Homo sapiens: one gene and its partners. The protein of the gene in region 1 purifies or fractionates together with the protein of each later gene. This does not show direct contact. Each region holds a gene or a part of one and is shown in the gene's direction. Other genes may lie near its edges.

The links.
Region 2: the proteins of PTPRH (region 1) and NGLY1 purify together in Homo sapiens (affinity purification with mass spectrometry, with the first as the bait; one large-scale study listed by BioGRID). This does not show direct contact.
Region 3: the proteins of PTPRH (region 1) and CPT1A purify together in Homo sapiens (affinity purification with mass spectrometry, with the first as the bait; one large-scale study listed by BioGRID). This does not show direct contact.
Region 4: the proteins of PTPRH (region 1) and C5orf15 purify together in Homo sapiens (affinity purification with mass spectrometry, with the first as the bait; one large-scale study listed by BioGRID). This does not show direct contact.
Region 5: the proteins of PTPRH (region 1) and TMEM192 purify together in Homo sapiens (affinity purification with mass spectrometry, with the first as the bait; one large-scale study listed by BioGRID). This does not show direct contact.
Region 6: the proteins of PTPRH (region 1) and GLUD1 purify together in Homo sapiens (affinity purification with mass spectrometry, with the first as the bait; one large-scale study listed by BioGRID). This does not show direct contact.
Region 7: the proteins of PTPRH (region 1) and FAF2 purify together in Homo sapiens (affinity purification with mass spectrometry, with the first as the bait; one large-scale study listed by BioGRID). This does not show direct contact.

What each region holds. Positions count from the first base shown.
Region 1 is NC_000019.10:55,206,260-55,210,878, reverse strand, and holds the start of PTPRH (receptor-type tyrosine-protein phosphatase H isoform 1 precursor), read left to right. Parts: upstream 1-1,377; 5' UTR 1,378-1,445; coding exon 1,446-1,496; intron 1,497-3,464; exon of another isoform or gene 3,465-3,583; coding exon of another isoform or gene 3,584-3,679; coding exon 3,680-3,713; exon of another isoform or gene 3,714-3,811; intron 3,812-3,902; coding exon of another isoform or gene 3,903-3,923; coding exon 3,924-4,190; intron 4,191-4,619. UniProt on the Homo sapiens protein: Protein phosphatase that may contribute to contact inhibition of cell growth and motility by mediating the dephosphorylation of focal adhesion-associated substrates and thus negatively regulating integrin-promoted signaling processes.
Region 2 is NC_000003.12:25,721,237-25,724,835, reverse strand, and holds part of NGLY1 (peptide-N(4)-(N-acetyl-beta-glucosaminyl)asparagine amidase), read left to right. Parts: intron 1-1,936; coding exon of another isoform or gene 1,937-2,101; exon of another isoform or gene 2,102-2,159; intron 2,160-3,599. UniProt on the Homo sapiens protein: Specifically deglycosylates the denatured form of N-linked glycoproteins in the cytoplasm and assists their proteasome-mediated degradation. Cleaves the beta-aspartyl-glucosamine (GlcNAc) of the glycan and the amide side chain of Asn, converting Asn to Asp.
Region 3 is NC_000011.10:68,758,031-68,762,129, reverse strand, and holds part of CPT1A (carnitine O-palmitoyltransferase 1, liver isoform), read left to right. Parts: intron 1-442; coding exon 443-595; intron 596-1,791; coding exon 1,792-1,905; intron 1,906-2,468; coding exon 2,469-2,561; intron 2,562-4,099. UniProt on the Homo sapiens protein: Catalyzes the transfer of the acyl group of long-chain fatty acid-CoA conjugates onto carnitine, an essential step for the mitochondrial uptake of long-chain fatty acids and their subsequent beta-oxidation in the mitochondrion.
Region 4 is NC_000005.10:133,958,209-133,962,307, reverse strand, and holds part of C5orf15 (keratinocyte-associated transmembrane protein 2 precursor), read left to right. Parts: intron 1-2,287; coding exon 2,288-2,814; intron 2,815-4,099.
Region 5 is NC_000004.12:165,085,023-165,089,121, reverse strand, and holds part of TMEM192 (transmembrane protein 192), read left to right. Parts: intron 1-519; coding exon 520-654; intron 655-3,433; coding exon 3,434-3,536; intron 3,537-4,099.
Region 6 is NC_000010.11:87,088,011-87,092,109, reverse strand, and holds part of GLUD1 (glutamate dehydrogenase 1, mitochondrial isoform a precursor), read left to right. Parts: intron 1-486; exon of another isoform or gene 487-2,548; intron 2,549-4,099. UniProt on the Homo sapiens protein: Mitochondrial glutamate dehydrogenase that catalyzes the conversion of L-glutamate into alpha-ketoglutarate. Plays a key role in glutamine anaplerosis by producing alpha-ketoglutarate, an important intermediate in the tricarboxylic acid cycle.
Region 7 is NC_000005.10:176,496,885-176,500,384, forward strand, and holds part of FAF2 (FAS-associated factor 2), read left to right. Parts: intron 1-2,029; coding exon 2,030-2,201; intron 2,202-3,118; coding exon 3,119-3,262; intron 3,263-3,500. UniProt on the Homo sapiens protein: Plays an important role in endoplasmic reticulum-associated degradation (ERAD) that mediates ubiquitin-dependent degradation of misfolded endoplasmic reticulum proteins.

The sequences.
Region 1 (4,619 bases):
CACCATCTTAGCCAGGCTGGTCTCGAACTCCTGATCTCAGGTGATCTGCCCACCTCGGCCTCCCAAATTGCTGGGATTACAGGTGTGAGCCACCGCGCCTGGCCATTGTTTTGCTTTCTGAGACAGGGGCTCACTCTGTCACCCAGGCTGGAGTGCAGTGGCACAATCGCAGCTTACTGCAGCCTTGACTTCCCAGTCTCAGGTGATCCTCCCACCTCAGCCTCCCGGTAGCTGGGACTACAGGCGTGCACTACCATGCCTGGGTAATTTTTTCTCTCTTTTTGTTTTTCTTTGTAAAGATGGGGTTTTGTATATTGCCCGGGCTGGTCTCAAACTCCTGGGCTCAAGTGATCCTCCCACTTCAGCCTCCTGAGTAGCTGGGCACACACCAATATGCCCGGCTGGGGTTTCTATTCTTCATTTCCGCACTATATGTGAGATGAAGGCAGTCCACGTGTGCACATAGTAAGTCAACAAAAACACCTTGAAAAGCCCTGGGTGTCAGGCCCCTTCTGAGCACAGGTGGCCTAGGGATGAACTAAAAATAAACATGACTAATATTTATCAACTGTTTAAAATGGGCCAGGCATTGTTCCAAGACTTTCCACGTAGTAACTCATCTATTTCTCTTAGCATATTTACAAGGGTGCCCATTCTTTAGAGATGAGGAATCTGAGTCACTGTGGATTTAAGTCATTTGCTCAGGGTCACAGATGGATATGCAAATTAGAGAGTCTGGGGTGTGGAAGACAGTGCACAGGGTCCTGACCAGGCTAGAAAGGCCCCAGGCCCGGCATGGGTCATTTCCAAGCTGAATCCTAATGGAGCAGTGGGTAGGAGACTGTTAGGGGGAAAGTAGGCAGGTGCATCTGGTGGGGGAGACAGTCTAGGCAAAGGCCAAGAGGCAGGAGCCCGCTGGGCTCATTTTGTGAGAGCTGCAGGGGCTTGTGGGAGACGGAGAGGGGAAAGGCGTCAGAGGCTGAATGGAAGAGCGTGCTCCAGGGACGAGGGGCATGAGGTCTAAGCCCCAGGCTGCTCTTGATGTGTGATCACCCACCAGGGAGGCGAGGGAGTCAGCTGGCCTTTCTCTCAGCACCCCCTGCTCTCATCCTCTGCCCCACGTCCCGCATCCGTGCAGCAGTGGGGCGCGGCACCCGGTACCTGGGGTGCAGAGGGAGATTTCGGGGGACAAAGTGGAGTGGGCTGGGGGCTGGAGAAAGGATGGGAGGCATCTCCAGTGTCAGAGCTAGAGGCAGCGGTGAGGGAGGAAGGTGAGGGCCAGCGGGGCAGGGTTGGGAGCTGGGTTCCACTTCCTCCTCCTCCCCTTCCCGCCCTGGCCTCTGGCTTCACCAATGATCTGGTAAAGGGGAAATTCTTGAGTGTAAAGTCCAGCAGGTGGAAGGACTAGGCCTGGGACTCCTGGGTCCCCGGCAGTGTCTGGAGGCATGGCTGGGGCTGGCGGGGGCCTCGGGGTCTGGGGGAACCTGGTGCTGCTGGTAAGTGCTCCCCGCCCAGAGCGGGCTCCCAAGGCAGGGACTCCCAGGTCTGAGGGAGAAGGAGCTGGGTGCCTGCACCTCGATCTTGAGGAAGTAGGTGCTGAAGATCCCCTGGAGAAGGAAGAGGGCTTCAGGCTTGGCAGAGACTGTAGGAGAGTCTTACACCTGGGCTCTTAGATACTGTCGTGTCTGCTGCGGGGGACACCAGCTTCACCCGGGCCCTTAGACATTGTCGTGTCTGTTGTGGGGGACACCAGCTTCACCCGGGCCCTTAGACACTGTCGTGTCTGCTGCGGGGGACACTGGCTTCAGGCAACACACAGCTGTGCTCACGGACAGGAAGCAGCCCCTCCTCCCTCAAACCAAGAGTCCAGACCCCAGCCCCTCCTCCCTCAGACCCAGGAGTCCAGGCCCCCAGCCCCTCCTCCCTCAGACCCAGGAGTCCAGACCCCAGCCCCTCCTCCCTCAGACCCGGGAGTCCAGGCCCCCAGCCCTTCCTCCCTCAAACCAAGAGTCCAGGCCCCCAACCCCTCCTCCCTCAGACTCAGGAGTCCAGACCCCCAGCCCCTCTTCCCTCAGACTCAGGGGTCCAGACCCCCAGTCCCTCCTCCTTCAGGCCCAGGAGTCCAGACCCCCAGCCCCTCCTCCCTCAGACCCAGGAGTCCAGACCCCAGCCCCTCCTCCCTCAGACTCAGGAGTCCAGGCCCCCAGCCCCTCCTCCCTCAGACCCAGGAGTCCAGACCCCAGCCCCTCCTCCCTCAGACCCGGGAGTCCAGGCCCCCAGCCCTTCCTCCCTCAAACCAAGAGTCCAGGCCCCCAACCCCTCCTCCCTCAGACTCAGGAGTCCAGACCCCCAGCCCCTCTTCCCTCAGACTCAGGGGTCCAGACCCCCAGTCCCTCCTCCTTCAGGCCCAGGAGTCCAGACCCCCAGCCCCTCCTCCCTCAGACCCAGGAGTCCAGACCCCAGCCCCTCCTCCCTCAGACTCAGGAGTCCAGGCCCCCAACCTCTCCTCCCTCAAACCAGAGGTCGAGACCCCCAGCCCCTCCTCCCTCAGACCCAGGAGTCCAGACCCCCAGCCCCTCCTCCCTCAGACCCAGGAATCCAGACCCCCAGCCCCTCCTCCCTCAGACCCAGGAGTCCAGACCCCAGCCCCTCCTCCCTCAGACTCAGGAGTCCAGGCCCCCAACCTCTCCTCCCTCAAACCAGAGGTCGAGACCCCCAGCCCCTCCTCCCTCAGACCCAGGCCCCCAGGCCCCCAGGCCCTCCTCCCTCAGACCCAGGAGTCCAGACCCCAGCCCCTCCTCCCTCAGACTCAGGAGTCCAGGCCCCCAACCTCTCCTCCCTCAAACCAGAGGTCGAGACCCCCAGCCCCTCCTCCCTCAGACCCAGGAGTCCAGACCCCCAGCCCCTCCTCCCTCAGACCCAGGAATCCAGACCCCCAGCCCCTACTCCCTCAGACCCAGGAGTCCAGACCCCAGCCCCTCCTCCCTCAGACTCAGGAGTCCAGGCCCCCAACCTCTCCTCCCTCAAACCAGAGGTCGAGACCCCCAGCCCCTCCTCCCTCAGACCCAGGAATCCAGACCCCCAGCCCCTCCTCCCTCAGACTCAGGAGTCCAGGCCCCCAACCTCTCCTCCCTCAAACCAGAGGTCGAGACCCCCAGCCCCTCCTCCCTCAGACCCAGGAGTCCAGACCCCAGCCCCTCCTCCCTCAGACTCAGGAGTCCAGGCCCCCAACCTCTCCTCCCTCAAACCAGAGGTCGAGACCCCCAGCCCCTCCTCCCTCAGACCCAGGCCCCCAGGCCCCCAGGCCCTCCACCCTCAGGCCAAGGTTCCTGATCCCCAACCTTGGTTTTTTTCTCCCTTCCCAGTCTGTTCATTGCTCTCTGCCCTCGGTTTTCCAAGGACATATATTTCAGGAAATGAAATCATTAATTTTATCTCTCAGCCTTATCGGGTGGAGCCAACCCCAGCTCCCTAAGCTCTGCTCCTGCCATGCTCCCCCTTCTCTCCTCGACCCAGGAAAGACGGTCGAGGTCGTGACAGCCCAGCCTAACACCGGCCCCTCCTTCCCATGCAAGGGTGACTCATGGGGCGGGGACCAGCCGCTCCTCCCAGCCCCTCGGCCTCACTGGGCGGAGGAGTGGTTGAGAGGCTGACTCCGTTTTCTCTGGGTTCCCTCCAGGGCCTGTGCAGCTGGACAGGGGCCAGGGCGCCTGGTGAGTGACCCCTGCCTGAACTCACTGCCCACTCGAAGAGGTGGGACCGCAACTGCCGTGAGCCTCTGGGGGGTCCCCGTGGGGTCCAGTGGTCCATGGTAGGGGTTTATGAGCGCCGTTGTTTCTGGACTTGGGGCGTGAGCTCAGGGGTTGGGAGGGATTGTACTGACCTGGTTCCCTTTTTGTCAGACCTTCCTTCCCAATTCTCAGCCCCCAACCCAGGGAGGAACCTGACAGTGGAGACTCAGACCACCAGCTCCATCTCCCTGAGCTGGGAGGTCCCCGATGGCCTAGACTCACAGAACTCCAACTACTGGGTTCAGTGTACTGGAGACGGCGGCACAACAGAGACTCGAAACACAACAGCCACCAACGTCACCGTGGATGGCCTTGGACCCGGGTCATTGTATACGTGTTCTGTGTGGGTGGAGAAAGACGGAGTAAATAGCTCTGTGGGGACTGTCACTACTGCCACAGGTAAGAGGCAGCCACTGCTTTATTTTTATTTCTTTTATAAGGACAGTGGTAGGGGGTGGTTGAGAGCTGACAAAATGCGACAGGTTCTTTAGTTGGATAGAAACACAGTGGAAGCCACACGTGAGAATTTCAATTTTCTATCAGCCACATAAAAATAAGTAAAAAGAAACTGGTCAGCCTGTCTCTACAAAAAAATTAAAAAGTAGCTGTGGTGGCGTGTTCCCGTGGTCCCATCTACTCGGGAGGCTGAGGTGAGAGGATCGCTTGAGCCCGGGAGGCAGAGGTTGCAGTGAGCTCTGATTGGACCGCTGCACTCCAGCCTGGGCAACAGAGAGAAACCCTGTCTCAAAAAAAAAAAAAGAAAAGAAAACAAAAGAAAACAAAAGAAAAGAAAAACAAACTAAATTACTATGAGAGATTTTATGTAGT
Region 2 (3,599 bases), on another chromosome or scaffold:
GCAGAAGAAGTAATATCTGAGTTGGCTTTTGGAGAGGAGGAAGAGGGAAAGTTTCTTAGTATGAGGACAGGATATGGAAGGGGAGGTTGTTTGGGGACATGAGAAATAGTGTCTTCAAAAGCACTGAGGTGAGAGACATCTGGTATATTCAGGAAAAAGTGAGAAGTAGAGAATATGGAGGAGAATAGTGAGAAATGAGACTAGAGAGGTAAATAATTGTCAGGTCCCAGAGACTTTGATTACCTTGCAATTATGTAATAGGCAACCATGAAAGTTTCCTATTACAAATGGAGTAAATTGGAAGTATACATGGAAATCTTAAAAATTCTTATCCAAATTCTACAAATGGAATAAATTGGAAGTATACACAGAAATATTTACAGTGGGAACTACAAGTGGATTCATGTTTGATTTTCAACATAAAATGGAATAACCAAAAACAAGACTCATTGCAAGTACCGGTTTACCAGCAACAATTTGAGATTCCTTGAAATACAGCTGCTTTGCTGGGTATCTGTGGGAATGACGGACTTCAGGGTGCTTGCTGTATGGTGAACTGAACTTGAGTGAATCTTAGCAGCCTCAGTAGAACAATAATTTTAAGAGTGTATTAAAGAAGAGCTTCAAACAATATAGTCCAAACTGAACCTCTAGGGAGCCATAGCAGCCTGACATGTAGTAATCAAAAAATCTTTGAGCAAAATCTTCTGTAGAATATTAGTTACATAAAGCCAACATGCAAATTGTTCTCAGTCCTGAAAATAGTGGTTACAGCCACAACCTAAAGACAAGTTCTATTTTTATATATTGTGAATAGTATGGCTTATGCCTAAACCGTAGACACACAGGTCTTGTTCTCACGCAAAGGGTGTATATGCTCATATGTGCTTACAACAAGGAGCAAGGATGGGTCACTGGTGGGAGGAGGGGTTGGGTGGTATATATAGAATACAGGAGAAAACCTCCATGATTTCTGACTTTACTAGCACTCCTGCTAAAGTAGGATAGCAACACTCACCTTTTAGAGACCTACACATTACAAAACCGAGCTTACAGAATGCACACAATAAATTTAAAAAAAATTTTTTAAAGCCAACAGGCAAAAATATGTCTATCAAATAACTCACGATGTTAGGAACAATCAACAGTTGTAAAAAAAATTTTTTTTCTCTACACTAAACAAGTGAATGTTTGCTTTTTTTTTTCCTTTTAAATAAATTATAGTTACTGATTGTGTTCATATTATACATAGTGGGATCAGAGTTGGAGGTTTTTTATAAATTCTATTGTTGTGGTACATTTTAATTTACTAAACTGAGTATACATATTCTTGGTAACTTTCTACCACCTCTAAAAATGAGTCTTTGACAGAATATATTGTGCAAAAAAAGATGATAGGAATTTTCTGTATAAATAGGGTGTTTTATCTCCATATACTGTTCTTTAACATAAGAGACCTTTTTTATTTTGCTCATAGTATGTTTGAATGTTTAAACATTTAAGTATTAAATCATGAACTCTATCTTATTCTTTAACTTTCTAGAGTCTTAAAAGCTGATGATGCCTTTAGGACTGAAAATTTTAAGGCTTTAATAAATGCTGTCAGACATGTTCAACAGCTACTATAAACCTTCTCTTAAACAGTTAAAACCACAGTTCTGACCCAGACCCACACAATATAATTAAGGCAGTTATTGGAGTAAGCTAGATTTGAAGTTAACGTAATTTCAGCCTATCATATTTTATACCCACACTTTTGAGGGACATTTGAATCTAGTGAGCTCTGAAAATATACAAGATATAGAAGTGCATATTGAGAGATAAATTTGAGTATATCTGTTAATGTTTATGTCTTAAGATTACTTTCCTTAAGTCTTTTAGTTCTTTTAATTCACCTTTCTTCCAGTAACCTCTCTGTTTGGCTCTTCTTTCCCAGATATCCCCCTTTGCTAGCCATTCCTTTAAAGGAGCAGTTAACCTGTGTGTAACCCAGATGCCTAATAGTTTAGGATGGGTGAAACTAATGACTCCCGGGGAACACTGGTGGAGTCCTGAGTCCCACATCCTCCTTACAAGCGGCTGTAAGAGGAGCATGCAGTAGGAACATATATGAACACCAGAGGATGTTATAGTGGCGTTGTCCAAACTTGAGTGGAGCAATTGACAGTTCCACATCTAGGTTTGTCAACAACAAATAACAGTTGGCTATACATATCTACTCTGAGTAGTTTAAGAACATTTTCTTTGGAGAGTGATTGTTCAGTTGTTACATAATCTCTAACTCACTGATTCTAAAAATTTTCAGATTAAATTAATGGGCATACCTGGAAGAAAAATAGCTATAGGTTGGTTGTCAAATAGATGGTGATTAGAATACTATTGGCGATTGATTTTTTTACTTGATATGAGTAAAGACCAGAATACAGAATAGTACATATAATAGGATATTCCATGGCAGATGTGTTTTATATGGTACTTTCAACTATTTGCCCCTGAGCTAGAGTATGAGTTAGATGTTTCTAAAAAGATCAAGTCTAACATGAATATATATATATATATATGTGTGTATACAGATCTTTAATAATATTTACTAAATGTTTTTATTTTTATTTTTTTTTTTAGACAGAGTCTCGCTCTGTCACCCGGGCTGGAGTGCAGTGGCACCATCCCGCTCACTGCAACCTCTGCCTCCCTAGTTCAAGCAATATTCATGTATCAGCCTCCCGAGTAGCTGGGATTACAAGTGTGCACTAACATGCCCGGCTAATTTTGGTATTTTTAGTAGAGATGGGGTTCCACCATGTTGGCTAGGCTGGTCTTGAACACCTAACCTCAAGTGATCCGACTGCCTCAGCCTCCCAAAGTGCTGGGATTACCGGTGTGAATGACTGTGCCCGGCACTAAATGCTTTTATGAATCCAGAAACTGTGCCCCCAGAGAGCTTATGATTTGATGAAGATAGGTCAGAGTATGGGCAGTATAAAGGAGTATAGTATAAAAAAATAAAAAGGAGCATTGGCAATTCAAGGTGGGATGAAATTGTGGAGGATTTTTTCTTTTCTTTTTTTTTTTTTTTTTTTTTTTTTTGAGATGGAGTCTTGCTCTGTCGCCCAGGCTGGAGTGCAATGGCGCAGTCTCGGCTCACTGCAAGCTCCGCCCCCCGGGTTCACACCATTCTCCTGCCTCAGCCTCCTGAATAGCTGGGACTACAGGCGCCTGCCACCACGCCCAGCTAATATTTTGTATTTTTAGTAGAGGCAGGGTTTCACTGTGTTAGGATGGTTTCGATCTCCTGACCTCGTGATCCACCTGCCTCAGCCTCCCAAAGTGCTGGGATTACAGGCGTGAGCCACCGTGCCCAGCCTAATTGTGGAGGATTTTTAAAGCTAATAGATTAGACTTAATGTAAGAACCAAGTACTTGCTGTACATTTCAGACCAGGCAGATAACATAAAGAGAGTGGGATTTTAAAACATTAATCTGATCAGAGCCAGGCACGGTAGCTCACACCTACAATCTCAGCAACTCAGGAGACTGAGGCAGGCGTTCAAGACCAGCCTGGGCAACATAGTGAGACCCTGCCTCTAAAAAATTTTTTT
Region 3 (4,099 bases), on another chromosome or scaffold:
AGATAAAGAAACAGAGGCCTAGATGAATTCAGCAGCTGCTGGGCCATTCTGCTCACTAATGGCCGAGGTCAGACCCAGGCCACTGGGTCCGCCTGACTCCAGCGTGCAGGTGCTTTCTGCTGATCCCCAGAGCGTGCAGGTGCTTTCCGCTGATCCCCAGAGGAGACACTGGCCAGGGCTCTTTTTTCCGAGACAAACTTCATTCTGGAAAGGCTGTCAGACCGGGCGCGGTGACTCACGCCTGTAATCCCAGTACTTTGGGAGGATGAGGTGGGCGGATTGCCTGAGCTCAGGAGTTCGAAACCACCCTGGGCAACATGTTGAAACCCCGTCTCTACTAAAAATAACAAAAAATATTAGCCGGGTGCGGTGGCTAACTTAGATCCGTAACTGCTCAACTTGAGACATGCAACATATGTCCTTCCCACCTTTTGTCACTCAGGTGGAACAGAGGCTGAAGTTGTTCAAGTTGGCGTCTGAGAAGCATCAGCATATGTATCGCCTCGCCATGACCGGCTCTGGGATCGATCGTCACCTCTTCTGCCTTTACGTGGTGTCTAAATATCTCGCTGTGGAGTCCCCTTTCCTTAAGGAAGTAAGTCTCTTCCACTTCTTCCGTCAGTTGTATTGGCTAGACCAAAACTTAGTAAATTACTACAGCCTTGCATGAACATATTTTAATGTCAGAATGGGCATTTGAAAAAAACGGGTCTGTGGGTGTAGCTGTCATAAAATGGAAAATGTGAGCAGCGCGTTTAGTACTGCATTTCTTCAAAAACTTCGCTGTCACATGTAGCCCCTGACTTAATAGACCCGAAGACCTCGAGAGCTTACGTCACAGTAAGACGCACGGAAGTAACTAGGGAGTGATGAGCTGTGAGCGCGTACCACCTTTGTTTTAAAAATCCTTTATTTTATTGTAAGTTTATGAAATATATTATTATTGTTTTTTGAGACAGGGTCTTACAGTGTTGCCCAGGCTGGGCTCAAACTCCTAGACACAAGCAATTCTTCGTCCTTAGCCTGCTGAGTAGCTGATGTGCACCACTGTGCCCAGCTCAAATTTAATTTAAGTTTTATTTATTTATTTATTTATTTTTTATTTTTTGGAGATGGAGTCTCGCTCTGTCACCCAGGCTGGAGTGCAGTGGCGCCATCTTGGCTCACTGAAACCTCCGCCTCCCGGGTTCAAGCTATTCTCCTGCCTCAGCCTCCCAAGTAGCTGGGATTACAGGCACACGCTGCCATGCCTGGCTAATTTTTTTTGTTGTTGTATTTTAGTAGAGACGGGGTTTCACCGTGTTGCCCAGGCTGGTCTCGAACTCCTGAGCTCAGGCAATCCACCCGCGTCGGGTTCCCAAAGTGCTGAGATTACAGACATGAACCATTGCGCCTGGCAAATTTAATTTTTAATAGTGGCTGTATTTAATAGCCAGCTTGAAAATTCTCTGAAAATATGGCAGCTGGCTCGTGGGAGTTGGTACAAGTCTGACACCTCTGTCCCCGTTCCGAATCTTACTCCATATATCTGTTACCTTCACTGTCTGAGATGCTATTTGCTGGTATGCCCCCACCCCCACCCTGCACTCCCTGCCCCAGTCTGGGGGCCCCACCCACCCCGCATGCTCTCTGCAGATACGCTGCCCAAGCCAGTGAGGCCTTTGGAGACATAGACTTGTGGTGTGTGGAACAATCAAAAGACCAAGCCAGGCTTTTCTCGTCTTCCCAAAGCGACTCCTGAGGGACGGTAGAGGAGGGGATTAGGAAACATTTCCCTGTTTCACTCAATAGGTTTTATCTGAGCCTTGGAGATTATCAACAAGCCAGACCCCTCAGCAGCAAGTGGAGCTGTTTGACTTGGAGAATAACCCAGAGTACGTGTCCAGCGGAGGGGGCTTTGGACCGGTGAGTGCGGCGGGGCTGGGCGAGGCGCAGTGGGGCGTGGTGATGGGATGGGTAATGGGGTGTGATGGGCCCATCTCCGTGCTGGGTGCCCCCGTTACCTTGCGGTTCTACCGCCGTAAAGGAATTACTGCTGATCATTGCTATGGATGTCCTTGGCAGTCTTGCACTTATTTTTTATTTTTTTGAGACAAGGTCTCGCTCTGTCACCCAGGCTGGAGTGCAGTAAGCATGATCATGGCTCATGGCAGCCTGAATCTCCCCCATCTCAGGTGATCCTCCCACCTCCACCTCCTGAGTAGCTGGGACTACAGATGCATGCCACCATGCCCAGCTAATTTGTGTGTGTGTGTGTATTTTTTTGTAGAGACAGGGTTTCACCATGTTGTCCGGGCTGGTCTCGAACCCCTGGGCTCAAGTGACCCGCCTGCCTCAGCCTCCCAAAATGCTGGGATTACAAGGAGAAGCCACCGAGCCCCGCCAGTGTTGCATTTAGAACATTAGAAAGTCCCTTTTTCACGTTGTCTCATTTCCCAGCAACAAATTCAAATTCCCTTGTCCTCCAGGTTGCTGATGACGGCTATGGTGTGTCGTACATCCTTGTGGGAGAGAACCTCATCAATTTCCACATTTCTTCCAAGTTCTCTTGCCCTGAGACGGTATGTATGAAAAGAAGTTCCTTTTTCTGAAGATGGGGTATTTTTGCTTTATTCTTTTTAAGGAAACACATCTTTAATTTGACAGAAAAAGTCAATTCAACTGCCTGCTTTTACTTGATTTCGGGAATTTTCACATAAATGGACTGCTTTTAAAAAAAAATTTTTTTTTTTTTGGAGACACAGTCTCACTCTGTCGCCCAGGCTGGAGTGCAGGGGCGAGATCTTGGCTCACTGTAACCTCTGCCTCCCGGGCTCAAGTGATTCTCCTGCCTCAGCCTCCCAAGTAGCTGGGACTACAGGCACCCGCCACTACCCCGGCTAATTTTTTTGTATTTTTAGTAGAGACAGGGTTTCACCATGTTGGGCAGGCTGGTCTCAAACTCCTGACCTCAGATGATCCACCTGCCTCGACCTCCCAAAGTGCTGAGATTACAGGCATGAGCCACCGCGCCTGGCCTAAATTTTTTTAATTAAAAAATTGTTTGTACAGACAGGGTCTCCCCACATTTCCCAGGCAAGTCTTGAACTCCTGGGCTCACGCGATCCTCTTACCTCAGCCTCCCAGTGTTGGGATTACAGGCTTCAGCCACTGTGCCCAGCCATAAGTGAATTTCAAAATTCTCTTTACCTAGTTTTAAACAAATGTATCTCAGCCAGGCACGGTGGCTCACACCTATAATCTCAGCACTTTGGGAGGCTGAGGCTGGCCAATCACTTGAGGTGAGGAGTTTGAAACCATCCTGGCCAACATGGTGAAACCCCGCCTCTACTAAAAATACAAAACTTAGCTGGTGTGGTGGCACACGCCTGTAATCCCAGCTACTCAGGAGGCTGAGGTAGGAGAATCGCTTGAACCCGGGAGGTGGAGGTTGTAGTGAGCCAGGATCATGCCACTGCACTCCAGCCTGGGTGATGGAGTGAGACTCCGTCTCAGAAAAAAAAAAAAAAAAAAGGAAATGTATCTAATTTGGTTTAACATGTTTACCTCTGTTGGCAGCAATGGTTTTGAAGCTTAACGTTGGAGTGCTGCTGTAACTTTCAGACTCTTTAGCACTTGGAAGATGAACTAAAAATAATGGGTACACACTAAGAAATCTGCATACAGAGCAGGGGACCCCCGGCTTCCTCTGTGGATGGAACAAGGGACCTCCTCCCTAGCATGGCACATTGCCCTTATTTATATTCTGCTTTCCTTGTCGTACATAGCCTGGCAACCCATGCCACTGTCGCTGTTAACAGAGGAAGTTGGGGTTTATTTGTTCACTGCGGTTTTCTTTTGTTGTTTGTTTGTTTGTTTGTTTTAGACAGGGTCTCACTCTGCCACCCAGGCTAGAGTGCAGTGGTGTGATCTCGGCTCACTGCAGCTTCAGCCTCCTGGGCTCAGGGGATCCTCCTACTTCAGCCTCCTGAGTAGCTGGGACTATAGGGGAGTGCCACCACACCTGGCTGATTTTTGTATTTTTTGTAGAAATGTGGTTTCACCATGTTTCCCAGGCTGGTCTTGAACTCCTGGGCTCAAGCGATTCCAAAGTGCTGGG
Region 4 (4,099 bases), on another chromosome or scaffold:
ACAAGAAAGCAAAGGGTGAAAGAAGGGATTTGCTGATGACTGTGAATTCTATACTGCGTGGTGGAAATTTCTTTATAATTATTCCCACCCTATCAGCTTGTGTCCTTTAAAGGTACTTACCCATGGAAAAATTGTTCTTTTAAAAGTTAAGTTTAGTTAGTTGGCTCCCACTTATTTCAATTTTAAATTTTATTTTAAAACATGTTTTTTGTACTTTGGCAGGAAAATTAAATGTATCAGAAAATAATAATTTTTAAATTCTTGAATTATAACTAAGTTGAAGTGATAAATGCAAAAATTATTTTCAGAAATTCCTGTTAGTAGTTTTCTGAGTAATGTACTGAGTTGTAGGTCCTGTTTATTTCTCTTTTCTTCCAGTAAAAAATTTCAAGGAACTCAATTATTGAAAATGTTTTAAGAGTTTTACTGTAATCCCAGTACTTTGGGAGGCCAAGGTGGGAGGATTTCTTGAACCCTGGAATATGAGAGCAGCCTGGGCAACATGGCAAGATGCTGTCTCAAAAAAAAAAAAAAATTGCATATGGCATTGGACAAATATATGAAAAATAAAAAAAGCCAGGCAGGGTAGCATGTGCCTGTGGTCCCAGCTACATGGGGGGCTTGAAACCAGGAGGTCGAGGCTACAGTGAGCTATGTTTGTGCTACTGCATTTCAGCCTGGGCAACAGAGTGAGACCCTGTCAAAAAAAAAAAAGGGAAAAAGAGAGTTTTACTAATTTATTGGTTTTTTTTTTTTTTTTTTGAGATGTGGTCTTGCTCTGTCGGCCAGGCTAGAGTGCAGTGGCGCCATCTCGGCTCACTGCAACCTCCACCTCCCAGGTTCACGCCATTGTCCTGCCTCAGCCTCCCGAGTAGCTGGGACTACAGGTGCCTGCCACCATGCCTGGCTAATTTTTTGTATTTTTTAGTAGAGACCGGGTTTCATCATGTTAGCCAGGATGGTCTCGAGCTCCTGACCTCATGTTCAGCCTGCCTCGGCCTCCCAAAGTGCTGGGATTACAGGCGTGAGCCACAGGGCCTGGCCTTTTTTTTTTTTTTTTTTTTTTTTTTTTTTTACTAACTGACTACATTATTTTTCTGAGATCCTCTGTTCATTCTAATTGACACCAGCTATTTCTTTTTTTTTCTACACAAAATGGATGTCAACTGTGGTACACAAACCAGAGTGTATTCACATGAAGAAAGGGTTGTCTGTTGGATTGTTAACTTGTGTGAATGCACATGTTTGTGAAAGCACTAGAATGACTTGGTTTAATCTTACCCCTATAAAATATTTTACTTTAATGTGATAGACTTTAAAATATTGTCTGAATATGTTTAGATCTACATGACAGAGGTTTTTTTTTTTTATTTTTTTAGTGTAGTAGAGGTCCTTGAAGTTCTTCAACAGATACTACATTAGATTATAAATTAGAGATGGTTAAATTTCGGCAGGGATTCCTCTGGAATCTTCCTCTATTCATTCTTCTTGGTAAAAGAATAGTAAGAATTCTTATGTAAAGAATTTTACCTTTAGTAAACTATGCTGAGTAGGTAGCAGCACAGGGAAATAAGAATGTGTGTGTATTTGGTGTCATTTGCTATACCTAGATGCCTTCCCTCATCTTCAAAATAGTCTAGTTGTCACTTAGCTCTCAGGTTCCCGTTTCGGATGCTTCTCCTTTAGAAGTTTTTTCTTCTTTGTAAGGATCCTTCTTTTTTTTTGAATTTAGGAGAGGGAGTCCTCTAGTTCAAGTATCACTTAGAATTACTATCTACAGCATGCCTATAGCTTCCCCTGAATTTGTTATGTTGTGTTGAAAGTATTTAGGTCCAAACTCCATATCTTTTTTGGGACCTACTTGAGTGAGAATCAGCCACTTTTTGGTCTGTTCTAGGGATCAGGTAAAGTCTGGACAAGGTAACTGAAATCCACACCCTTTATGAAATGAAAACAGAGGGGATGGGTGAGGGCTGTATGTGAACTTTGCCATCGTGACTTAAAGTCAGCCCTTTTTCTTTTCTTTTGGTGGCAGGCTGTATGATGCAGTAGGTCTTTTATGCTGCTTAAATTGTTAGTATCTAGCAAAGCAATTATTATCTGAAGAATAACTGACTAAGAAGAAATGTAACTGAATGCTGGCTATTGAGACTTAATAACTAGTTTTCGAGAAAGTTATAGGAATGTAGCAGAGAGAAATGCTTAGTGTAAAATTTGGGTAAATATGCTTTTAGCTTGGTGGAGATAAAGTTGGAGATTTCAGTTTGATATTCTTTGTTTGTTTCAGTTGTATCACGGACTGATTCACCGAGCCCAACCGTACTCAACTCACATATTTCTACCCCAAATGTGAATGCTTTAACACATGAAAACCAAACCAAACCTTCTATTTCCCAAATCAGCACCACCCTCCCTCCCACGACGAGTACCAAGAAAAGTGGAGGAGCATCTGTGGTCCCTCATCCCTCGCCTACTCCTCTGTCTCAAGAGGAAGCTGATAACAATGAAGATCCTAGTATAGAGGAGGAGGATCTTCTCATGCTGAACAGTTCTCCATCCACAGCCAAAGACACTCTAGACAATGGCGATTATGGAGAACCAGACTATGACTGGACCACGGGCCCCAGGGACGACGACGAGTCTGATGACACCTTGGAAGAAAACAGGGGTTACATGGAAATTGAACAGTCAGTGAAATCTTTTAAGATGCCATCCTCAAATATAGAAGAGGAAGACAGCCATTTCTTTTTTCATCTTATTATTTTTGCTTTTTGCATTGCTGTTGTTTACATTACATATCACAACAAAAGGAAGGTAGGTTTGGGATTTTTTTAGCCCTTTATTATTTCAGTCATAATGCTTTTGATGATTCATGGTTCTTTTTTTTTTTTTTTTTTTTTTTTGCAAAAAAAAGTGTAGTGGGTTTCACTCTGTCAACCAAGCTGGAGTACAGTGGCACAATCACAGCTCACTGGAGCCTCGACCTCCTAGGCTTAAGTGATTCTCTTGCCTCAGCCTGTCGAGTTGGTGGGACTACAGATTCACACTACCACACCTGGCTAATTTTTAAAAATTATTAAATTAAAATTTTAAAAATTATTGTTTGTAGAGACGAGGTGTCGCTATTTTGCCCAGGCTGTTCTTGAACTCCCAGGCTCAAGCAGTCCTCCCGCCTCGGCCTCCCAAAGTGTTGGGATTACAGACATGAGCCACCATGCCCAGCCCTCTTTCCTTTTTTTCAGTGAAGTTTAAATTCATAGTAAAATATTGAGATGTCTAATCAGCATGTAAATCTATTGTGTATTTTAACACACTGCAGACAGAATGCTTGAATGTATGTACTTCTAAAAAAAGAAATAGTCCTATTTCTTAATGAGTAATACCAAAGCCCAGTGATTTTTTTTTTAAGAGTTTATGTCTTAATTTGGCATCATTACTTCAGTAGGAATACTTGTGGAGAAAATGTTAATTTAATATTTGTCTTTTAATTTATTAACATTGAACTTAATCTTTTGATTTTTTTTCTGGTTATAAAGTGTTACACATTTATTTTAGGGAATTCAGAAAACAGAAGAGTTTAGAAAAGAAAATTTAAACTACTTCTCAGCATTAACGTTTTGGTGTATTTCTGGTCTATAAATGTGCATATAATTTATACATATAGGTGTATGTAATGATTTTTAAGGAATTTTATCTCACAGAGTTTTTTTTTTTTTTTTTTTTTTTTTTTTGAGACAGAGCTTCACTTTGTCTCCCAGGCTGGAGAGCAGTGGTGCGATCTCGGCTCACTGCAACCTCCACCTCCCAGGTTCAAGCGATTTTCATGGCTCAGCCTCTTGAGTAACTGGGACTACAGGCGCAGGCCACCACGCCTGGCTAATTTTCGTATTTTTAGTAGAGACGGGGTTTTGCCATGTTGGCCAGGCTGGTCTCAAACTCCTGGCCTCAAGTGATCCACCCACTTCAGCCTCCCAAAACGCTGGGATTACAGGCATGAGCCACTGCACCCAGCTATCTCATAGAGTTTTATGTCCTGACCAATCATGAGCATTTTCCATATCCTTAATATTCTTTAAAAACATTATTTTTTTTTGAGACA
Region 5 (4,099 bases), on another chromosome or scaffold:
CTTCATCAAACCTAAGCATAAGAATAGTTTTCTCTGGGTCTTTCATTTCTTTTCCTTTTTTTTTTTTTTTTTTTTTTTTTTGCAGTAGGGTCTTGCTCTGTTGCCCAGGCTGGAGTGCAGTGACACGACCTCAGCTCACTGCAGCCTCAACCTCCCAGGCTCAAGCAATCCTCCCACCTTAGCCTCCCAGGTAGCTGGAACTACAGATGTGTGCCACCATGCCTGGCTAATTTTTTATATTTTTTTATAGAGATGGGGTCTTGCTATGTTGCCTAAGCTGGTCTCGACCACCTGGGCTCAAGCAATCCTCTTGTCTTGACTTCCCAAAATGCTGACATTACAGGTGTGAGCCACTGCACCTGGCCTGGGTCTTCATTTCTGAAGGCTCTGATCACTCAGGAAATTACAAGTGTTTTAGGAGCTCTGTGTAAGGAACCAGACAAAGACCAACTATCTATTGGACAAAGACCATATATGTATTTCTCATCACATGCTGTGTTTTATGTTTCTCCTCCTCAGGCAACACAGTGCTTCTCCTCATACTGTGCATGCAGCACTCCTTCCCAGAGCCTGGCAGATTGTATCTTGACCTCATTCTGGCCATCTTGGCACTGGAACTCATCTGTTCCCTGATATGTCTCCTCATTTACACAGGTGAGAATTACAACGAGCCTGTTCTTATAGGAACTTCGAACTGCTTCCTTTCCTCCCAGTTTAAAGTATAGCCCATTAGCGACAAGGAAGTTCTCTGTGTATCTGAGTGGTGACCACATGCAGACTTCTTTAATTTCAAACCAACAGGAAGGTACAGCCACCACCAGTGAGACCCCATTCTTTTAAGATTGTGTCATTAATAAATTTTTGTTAATGCAAGTGAAACTTTTCCATTAAAACAAGACACAAACTTTTTGGGCTGGGAATGGTGGCTCAAGCCTGTAATCCCAGCTCTTTGGGAGGATGAGGCAGAAGGATCACTTGAGCTCTGGAATTCAAGACCAGCCTGGACAACATGATGAAACTCCATCTCTACAAAAAATACAAAAAATTAGCCAGGTATGGTGGTGCACAAATGTGGTCCCAGCCCCTCAGGAGGCTGACGTGGGAGGATCACTAGAGCCTGGGAGACAGAGGTTGCAGTGAGCCAAGATCACATGCCTGCACTCCAGCCTGGGTGACAGAGTAAGACCCTGTCTCCTAAAACAACAACAACAAAAACATCCACAAACTTTTGCTTCTCTGAAGGCAGCTGAAATGTCAGCTTGCATTTAAAATTAAAAATTAAGAAATAGGCCAGGCACAGTGGCTCATGTCTGTAATCCTAGCACTTTAGGAGGCTAGCACTTTAATAGAGATGGGGTTTCGTCATGTTGGCCAGGATGGTCTCTAACTCCTGACCTCAGGTGATCCGCCCGCCTTGGCCTCCCAAAGTGCTGGGATTACAGGCATGACCCACCGCACCCAGCCCCAAATTGTATATATTCATCTGCTTAATGAAGTTTTCATCCACATGTCCCACAGGCACCAACAAGATCAGAAGTGAACAGAACATAATTTTCTTCAAAATTTCCCTCCATCCTAACCGTCCTCTTCTAGCTCAGTTAACAATACCAGCCTGCATCCACTTGATAAATCAGAATCCTAGAAACGTAGGAGTCATCTACCTTCTTCCTTCTACCTCACTCCCCAAGAACTGGATAGGATTGGTGATCAGTCAGTCATCAGTCTTATTCAGTCTACCTGTCTTTCAGCTCTGTCTCTTTTCTTTGGTCCCTGCCACTGCCTTGGTTAGGTACTCATCATCTCTTGCATGGCTACATCCAGGAGACACATAACAGGTCTCTTTCCCTCTGTCCACTGATTCATATTTCTTATTCCTGCCAACATGATCTTGTTTATACTTAACTCTGATTGTTAACAGCTTCCCTGCCCAGAGTTTTCTAATAGCTGAAGGAAAAAAAATCTAACGTTTTCATGTGGCATAAAAGGCATTTTCTTTATTTTTTTTTTGAGTTGGAGTTTCACTCTCGTCACCCAGGCTGGAGTGCAATGGCGTGATCTCAGCTTACTGCAACCTCCGCCTCCTGGGTTTAAGCGATTCTCCTGCCTCAGCCTCCTGAGTGGCTGGGATTATAGGCGCCTACCACCACACCCAGCTAATTTTTGTGTTTTTAGTAAAGACAGCATCTCATCATGTTCGCCAGGCTGGTCTCAAACTCCGGATGTCAGGTCATCTATCCGCCTCGGCCTCCCAAAGTGCTGGGATTACAGACATGAGCCACCATGCCCAGCCTGAAAGGTTCTCCTTGAATGGCCTCTACCTAGCCTGCTCTTCAGGGATGATGGTGAGATCCTTTCAAAGACTGCCAGTTGCTCTGAGGATAAAATCTAAATGTCTTAGGCCGGGCCTGGTGACTCACGCCTGTAATCCCAGCACTTTGGGAGGCCTCAGCGGGTGGATCACTTGAGGCCAGGAGTTTGAGAACAGCCTGGCCAACATGGTGAAACACCGTCTCTACTGAAAATACAAAAAAAATTAGCTGGGTGTGGTGGTGCACGCCTGTAATCCCAGTCGGGAGGCTGAGGTGGGAGAATTGCTTGAACCTAGGAGGCAGAGACAGAGGTTGCAGTGAGCCAAGGTTGTGCCACTGCACTCCAGCCTGAGCGACAGAGCAAGACTCCGTCTCAAAAAAAAAAAAAAAAAAAGTGTAAATGCCTTGCATGACACACCAGCCACTCCTGATGCATTCTCTGCCTATCTTCCCAACCCACCCCTTGTCCATACACCCTCACACCCATACATACGTGTAGCTTCTCAAGACCATAGCATTTGTTCAGACTCCTCCTGCACCTGAAGCACCCTTCTTTATTCTCCTAGTCTGTGTGATTAATTCCTGGGCTCAAACTCTATCCTCTTTTCCCCTCTCTGATACCTCCTGTTGAGTTAGGCACTGCTTTCCAGGCCAAAAAGCAGCTTGACAACTCCTTGTGCAAGCCTCTTGCACAAGCTTCTATTGAAGGTACTTTCCATACTGTCTTAGAATGTAGGATTATTATCTGTATTTTCCCCTGGACCAGAGGAAGTCATGATTTCTGAATTAGATGGCTGGCTGGTTGCTCAACTTCTCTGGGCTTCACTGCGGGGTAATAGGAGCATCCACTTCATGCAGGTGTTTATGAGAACTGAATGAGGGCATCCATGTAAAACATTTAAACTGTGCCTCATGTGTTCTAAGTGCACAATAAATGTCAGCTATTATTGCTATTTCAATACTAATGTAATCCCTATATTCCCAGGGCTTAGAACAGGCCTGGCACATAGTAGAATTTGAAATACTCAAGGACGTTAATAAGAACGGCAAATTAGCATAATTTGAAAAAATGAAACTAGACTTGTCTTTCAGAATTCGATCTAATAATGACTTTATTATTTTAGTGAAAATCCGGAGATTTAATAAAGCTAAACCAGAGCCTGATATACTTGAAGAAGAAAAAATCTATGCTTACCCCAGCAATATTACCTCGGAGACTGGATTCAGGTAAGATTTAGGTGAGAATAAAATAATTGAGTTTTTTCCCCTAGAAAGCTAGAAACCATTCTGATGCTTGGAATTTATGATTGTGTATTTGTACTTTTACATTTGTTTGATTTGTTTATTTCCTTTCAGCTGTGGTGAAATCAAGTCTAAATCAGGATGTGTAAATGTATTAAATAGGCCATATATTTGATGCAAAAAATTAACCACTTAGCCAACCTATTTAACCTCTCAAGAGCTTTTGACATCATTAACTGGTTACTCCCTCCTTGAAGCACCTTTTTTTATAGGTGTCTTTTTTTTTTTTTTTTTTTTGAGATGGAGTTTTGCTCTTGTTGCCCAGGCTGGAGTGCAGTGGCATGATCTTGGCTCACCGTAGTCTCCACCTCCCAGTTTCAAGCGATTCTCCTGCCTCAGCCTCCCAGTAGCTGGGATTACAGGCATGCACCACCACGCTTGGCTAATTTTGTATTTTTAGTAGAGATGGGGTTTCTCCATGTTGGTCAGGCTGGTCTTGAACTCCTGACCTCAGGTGATCCGCCCGCCTCAGCCTCCCAAAGTGCTGG
Region 6 (4,099 bases), on another chromosome or scaffold:
ATGTGCATTGTAAGAGAGACAGGTCTTCTTTCTTAAAGCTTTTTTAACGTCTAAGAAATTGTTAACCTTTGTAGTCCCACTCTAGTCTTAGAAACACAGAATATATTAGGTGATTGAGATTTTTTTAAATGCTTTGGATAATCCCTATGAAATTCTGTCTTTCCCTCTTAAACATATTTTAACACGTTCTTCTTACCTCTCCCCACTAACCTGTCTTCTCTCCCATTGGTTCTTTGCCAAAAAAAAAAACCTCATCTGCCTCTCTCCACCCTTTTACCAACCTTCAGCTTTCTGTATCTCATTTTCCCTCAAGAACAACCTTATCCCTGAGTTTTCTAAATTAAAATTCTTGAGGTTGAAGCAAAGCAACAATCTAGCAATAATCTCTAAGGGAAACAGATGGTTATAAGACTTGGTGGCTGATGTGTACTTTTTCCAAGTAAATATTTAATAATACACACTGTTTTTGTGCTTTTCTTTTCCCAGTTACTACATGTACCTGAGGCCGTTAGATTTGTCTGTGTTAAGGATTTGAAAGGGTAAGCTAAAGGATCTGAAGGGAAGTTTAAGTGAGGCCTTAAAAATATTTCCAGCAAAGGGGCATAGTGTGAGAATATGCGACTGATTTGAGAAGACTGGTTCAAAAGTTCTGGTGGGTTTGGAAATATTATCAAAGATTGTTCTATTAACTTTCCCAGAGTAAATTATCTGTATTTCATTTGCTATGGTTCTGCCTGAGACCAGTCTACCTTTTTAGAAGGAAGTTTATTGTTTTAAAGTCAGTTTGGAGGGAAAGTACAGATTGATAATAGCAATTTATTGATGGTAGGAGTCAATTAACTTTCTCTTCCAGTCTGCCCCCCCCCAGTTGTCTTGATATTAAAACTATTAAAATTCCCTATCACTGATGCTACTATCATAAAATTTTCTAAAATTATCATAATTTACATATAGTTGATGGACCGTAGATGGAGTTCTCTCATACATTGACCCTAAGTCTTTTAATTACAAATATTAGTACCCAAAAAAGTGTACCCTATATTAATCCAGTAACTAGTTTTTAAAAGTCAAAATGCCAGAAGGAAACAGTGGAATCTTGATGACATAATGCAAGGGAAGACCGGAGTCAATGCAGTGTTAAAGACGCCCTCAGCCTCTGGGATGTCATTGTTTAGCGCTTAAGGGAAGACTATAGAAAGCACTGATACTGATTTAAAATGAGATATTTCTCTGCCTTCACTGGGGGAAAAAATGTTTCTGACTTATTTTGCTGTGCTCAATTGACAACCATCAAAACTTAGGTAACTTTTAATAAACTCACAGTTTCTAATATTTTTAAGTGGCTGTGTGTCTGCATCTGCTGCCACAGATAAAATATAACCTTTGTAGGTGAATTTAATTTAGGACTTTTCTGAAAGTTCAGTCAGAGGATAGGTAATTTGTGTGTCTTTTAAAAGCACTTAGCCCCGAGGTTGTTGTTTTTAATACATCTTATTTAAATACGGAAATGTGTTGCCCTTATGCCTTTTTATTTCATGGAAGCCAAATGCGTCTTTTCTCCCAAAGTATACTAGAAAATGAAGACGCTTGGTAATGGTAGTGATCTGTACATCAGATTTCAGTCTTTCTGTCACTTGCGTGTATGAATCCATTTAGCAAGTTTGCTTTTGGCAGTAAAGCCCCACGTGCAGGAAGACAAACAGCTGCTCACTCATTATCCAAAGTATACTTTGTAAGAATTAGGGCATCAAAAATTGGATCCTAAGCACCAATATATATTAAAGTTCAGTACAACTTGTAGTGTTTAAGTACAAGAAATAAAAATTGAGCCTGAACTTTTGGCATATAGTGGGAAGAAATTAGGTTTACCGCTGTTAATAATTCAGAGTGCTTAGGAAAATCGGTTTTTATTTACTTATGTTAAAAATACTAAGGGTTCTGTAACCATTAAAAACTAAAATACTAACCTGTAGATGTTGAAAAAATCCTAGACACTAGTCTCTGCCACGTGACTGTTCTTCTTTTCTATTTATTTTACCCAATAATTAGGCTTTTACAATGTAAGTAATAAAGAGAAAAATCTCTAGTATCACTTTAGAGCACATTGATTCATAAATAGCCCATAAATTTTGTACTCAGCAACCCATAAAATACACATGCATGATTCACATAATCAAATAGTAACGAAAGTTACAAAATGAAAAGTGAAGCAGCTCTACCCCAAGTCCTTCCCCCAATATAACCATGAACAGTCTTAAATCTAATGCCGCTGTCTAAAACTGACTAGTTATTCAAATGAATCAATATTTTCCCCTTTCCAGAGGCAGAAATTAATACAGATTCAAGTGTTCACTATCAAGTCGGAATTGTTAATATGTGAAATACTACTGTTAAAGGCAGGAAAGGCTTTATTAAGGACAAGAAGACAAACTAGGAGAAGGAGCTACTCAAGACCTTCCGATTATCTTTACAAAAAGGCAACTACACCTAGAAGATTCTGCAGCCACACACATTCTGCCTTCACTTGAGGTCAACTGCCTTCACCAAGGTCAGATATTAGCAAAGGCTAACATTTATTCAGCTCTGTGTGTGCCAGGCATTTTATTAAGAACTTTTCATGCATCATCAGTTCTATGCCTTATAGCAACAATGCATGTAAGAACTTTTCATGTATCATTGCTTTTATGCCTCATGCAATACACTGTTGTCCCTGATTTCCAAATGTGGCTACTAAGGTTGAGGAGTGAAGTGTCCTTTGGCAGGGTGACACAGCTAGTACGTAGTGGAGTTGAGGTTCAGATTCTGGGCATCTGATTCCAGCACCCACCTTAATCATTGTTGTCTGGGATTTATTTATGCAAAAAGTTACAAATTGTATCTTAGGCTTTTAATTGTAAGCGCTGATTGAGAACCACTTCATGCCATTGACACAATGCTTCCTAATACTTTGGATCATAGATACCTTTGAAATTTCTGTTAAAAGCTATTAGAAGACCTACCTTCTTCCTAGAAAAATACATATTCAAACAGCTTTGCATATAAAACTCAGCATAGATGATATCTCTAGAGGTCCATTTATTCTAATTGCTAAGGAAATGAAATAACCTTTTTCCCCTACACCCAACTCCGAAGACCTGAAATAACATTTTAAACAGTTTTCCATCAAAAGAGGTTTGAAGACTTTGGTGTTTAAGAGATTAATGTGTTAGCCAGAACAACTCATTTCTCTACCAGTGTGTAGTCCATTTATCTTTAAAGATTTTCTATTGAATAATTTTGAAATTACTTTCTTAGTTTTCTTCATTAAAAACTAAGAAAATGCTTTGTTTATTATGAATTGCTATTTCTCTTGATTATTATTCTTGGAGAAAGTCTATCAGACGTAATTCTTCTGATTTGCTTCTAGGCTAGAGGAAAATGTGAAAGATGACAAATGAAAATTTCAAAGGTTGTCAGTAGTATGACTTCTTTTATCGTTTGTCATTATCACAAATATATCAACATAGGACTTTTAAAAGATATTTTGTACATATTGGGCCTTAGTAGGATTTTGCATGAATTTTTTTTTTCTTTTATGCCAAGAGAGAAAGAGCAAAGAAATAACCAAGGGTGATGTACTCGTATTGAAGGTTTACCAAATAAGGACTGCTTTTATTATGAACTATAGTCTATATTCTAAGTAAATCAATTTTTCTATTATGTGTTTTTTGTTCCTGCAGGCAAGATCTCTGAACTTTATGCAGAGGGTTCTTTTAAAAAAACAAAGTTGAATTTTTTTATTTCTTGGAATATTTTTTTTCATTGATTTCTCCCAAGTAGAGCAGATTCAAATCTCCTTTGTACCCTATGTCTTTTTTGTTTTGCTATAAGCTCAGTATTCCATTTCTACATTTTCCTTTCCTAGAACCAGTCAATAAATGACAAAAAAAAAAACAAAACAAAGTAAATCATGTGTTGTTGCAGTAGGAGTTCAAGGAAACCAAGGACAATCTTGTTTGTTTATTTGTTTTTTTGTTTGTTTTTTTTTTGAAACAGAGTTTTGCTCTTGTTGCCCAGGCTGGCATACAGTGGCGCGATCTTGGCTCACTACAACCTCTGC
Region 7 (3,500 bases), on another chromosome or scaffold:
CAGTGGCTAACACCTGAAATCCTAGCACGTTAGGAGGCTGAGGCAGGAGGATTACTTGAATCCAGACTGGGCAGCAAAGCGAGACCCCATCTCTACAAAAAATAAGAAAAAATTAGCTAGGCATGGTGGTACATGCCTGTAGTCCCAGGTCCTTGGGAGCCCGAGGCAGGAGGATTGCTTGAGGCCAGGAGTTCGAGGCAGCAGTGAGCTCTGATTGTGCCTCTGCACTCCAGCCTGGATGACAGAGCAGGACTCTGTCTTTAAAAAATAATAAATGAATGAATAAACAAAGACAGGCCTCTGTGCTCAAGAATGTATATTGTGGCATTTAGAATAGCTGAATATAATATAAAGAACTTCGATGTAAAAAAAAAAGTGGAATGGTTATAATTCCTCTCCATTACATAAGTTATGTACATTAATTATAGGAAATCCTAAAACCACAAAAAAGCACAAGGAAGAAATTTAAGATCACTGATAAACCTACCACCACTTGAACATTGTTATAAATTTTTTTAATTTTATACACAACACACACCCCTATATACGTACACATTTATTTGTAAAATTGGGATAATACTTTTTTACAACCCTTCTTTATGTAAGAATATATCACGGCCTTTTCCCTCATCATTAAATATTCTGCCACATTTTAAAAATTACTGCATAACATTCCATTATCTAAATACATCATAATTTAACCAGGCCACTCTCGTTGGATTTTTAGATTATTTTCGGTTTGTTACTATTATAATTAGCATATAGGGAGATAATTTTTTGCAATTTGTGATGGTTTCCTTAGATTAAAATTTAAATTCCTGGAAGTGCAGTTTCTGGGTGAGACAATCAATATAAGTATATTTTAAGGCTCTTGATTTGTAATGCCAACTTGCCCTCAAGAAAGTTAAACAAACTTAAATTTTATGGAAAGTTTTTAATAACATGGGGACATGCTTGTTACATATTAGAAAAATGCAGAATCAGGCCGAGCATGTTGGCTCATACCTGTAATCCGAGCATTTCGGGAGGCTGAGGTAAGAAGATTGCTTGAACTCAGGAGTTTGAGGTCAGCCCGGGCAACATGGTGAAACCCCATCTCTACAAAAAATACAAAAATTAGCTAGGCGTGGTGGCACACGCCTGTAAGCTGAGGTGGCAGGATTGCTTTAGCCTAGGAGGTTGAGGCTGCAGTGAGTCATGATCGCACCACTGCACTCTAGCCTGGGTGACAGGCTAGCCCTGTCTCCAAAAAAAAAGAAAAATGCAAGATCAAAATCCTGTAAATAATAGCGTTATTTTAACTGTGTAAAAAAATGTATAGAACAGGAAACTTTCCGAGGTAACTGAAATGTTCTGTCTTGATTGGAGTGGTGATTACATGGTTACATTTATCAAAATTCATTGAATTGTACATTTAAGATCTGTGCATTTCACTGCATGTAAATTTTATCTTAATTTTTAAAGATAAAATCTGTTCAACTATTTTGATTGGCTAAATATTTTGGCTAAGAGAAAACAGAAATTTGTTGGAGAGAAAATAGGAGATATGCCAAATGTTATAATGTTTTATCTTTGATTAGTGATTCTCTGAATGACTCTGAAAACTCTACATTTTCAGATCTGCTACAATGTGTGTATGGATATATATGTGTGTGTTTTGGTTTTATGAGATCAGTACAAAAATGCAGTCACCCAAAATGGTATTTACTTGTAAAATATGATATTGATGATCCCTTCATAATAACAGTACTGTGTCACATTTGTTAGAATTAGGGGAAAAGTTTTATTTTAAAAGAGGAGAGGAAAGCTTGCTGTTTCCTTTTCTGCCAAATTAAACTGAGAAAAAAGGTGGCTTATTCAGATTCTGCCACGCTCTGCTTTTGGAATCCCTTATGGCAGTGTGAAATCGTCATCTGCTAAGAATATCAACATTTTTACACACACACACACACAGAAGATTTCAATATAAGAAAACACAGAACTTTGTGAGAGTGCTGTTTTTCTTCTCTTGCTTTTGATCTATTCACAGGGAAGAAAGAAACCAGACCCAAGTGCTGAGACAACAGCAGGATGAGGCCTACCTGGCCTCTCTCAGAGCTGACCAGGAGAAAGAAAGAAAGAAACGGGAGGAGCGGGAGCGTAAGCGGCGGAAGGAGGAGGAGGTGCAACAGCAAAAGTTGGCAGAGGAGAGACGGCGGCAGGTAATGGACGTGTGGCTTTACTCCCTGTGGTTCCCAAACTGCCGAGACTTTGCCATCTTGGTCTTAAGTGTGAAAGGAAAAAATGATAGCCACCTTAAACAGACTAAGAGGGAAAAAAAAAAAGGAAAAAGGAAAGAAAAAATTACAACATGTTGGAATTAGGGGTGATTTAAATTTTTCATACCATTTAAATATTCATTCTTTTTTAAATAAAAATTTAAAAAAAGAGACGGGCTTTGCCATATTGGCCAGGCTGCTCTCGAACTCCTGACCTCACATGATCTGCCTGTCTTGGCCTTCCAAAGTGTTGGGATTACAGGCGTGAGCCACCATGCCTGGCCCTAAATATTCATTCTTAATACCAGTATTAGCTGATTTGGCATTTTACTCATTATCTTTTTGTTTTTGTTTTGTTTTGTTTTGTTGTTGTTTTTGTTCCCTAGCAATCAGACTGAGATATACATTATCTTATTTGATTATGTATTACCGCTTACCTATAACCAGTGTCTTTTAGTCATTTCCTTTTATTTCTTTTTTTTTTTTAAGAGACAGGGTCTCACTGTGTTGCCCAGGCTGGCGTGCAGTGGCTATTCACCAGTGCAATCATGGAGCACTACACCCTGAAACTCTTGGGCTTAAGAAGTCCTGCTGTGGCCTCTGAAGTAGCTGGAACTACAGGCACATACCATGGCACCCTGCTCCCTTTCTCCTTTTTCTCAAATAAATACCTAGACATAATAAAGAATACATGAGATGCAATTGTACTTTAAATTTAGGTTGTTTTTGACTATTCCTGAGAGGTTTTTCTTAGAATACTTAGTCATTAATTTTTCTTCTGACGACTGCGTAATAAAGCTACATGGTCATTGTATTTATTTCTTGAGCTGTAGCCTCACCTTTGCTTTGTGTCTCTGCAGAATTTACAGGAGGAAAAGGAAAGGAAGTTGGAATGCCTGCCCCCTGAACCTTCCCCTGATGACCCTGAAAGTGTCAAGATCATCTTCAAATTACCTAATGATTCTCGAGTAGAGAGACGATTCCACTTTTCACAGTCTCTAACAGTAAGGACCACCTAAGTTCTGTGAAGTGTATGTAGCATCTGGGCTATAGATTTGGAGCTTTTACTGACTCTTGAGAGTGGTGTTGGTGTATCTGCTGCTCTGATGAACAGGGAACAGAGAGAGAGAGAGAGAGATGGGTATGCCATCCGTGGACACCAGGAAGAGTACCGAGGACTGCTGTAGGCTCCTTCAGTTCTAGTTTCCAACTCAAAGCAATTTTTAAGTTTTTGTTTAATTA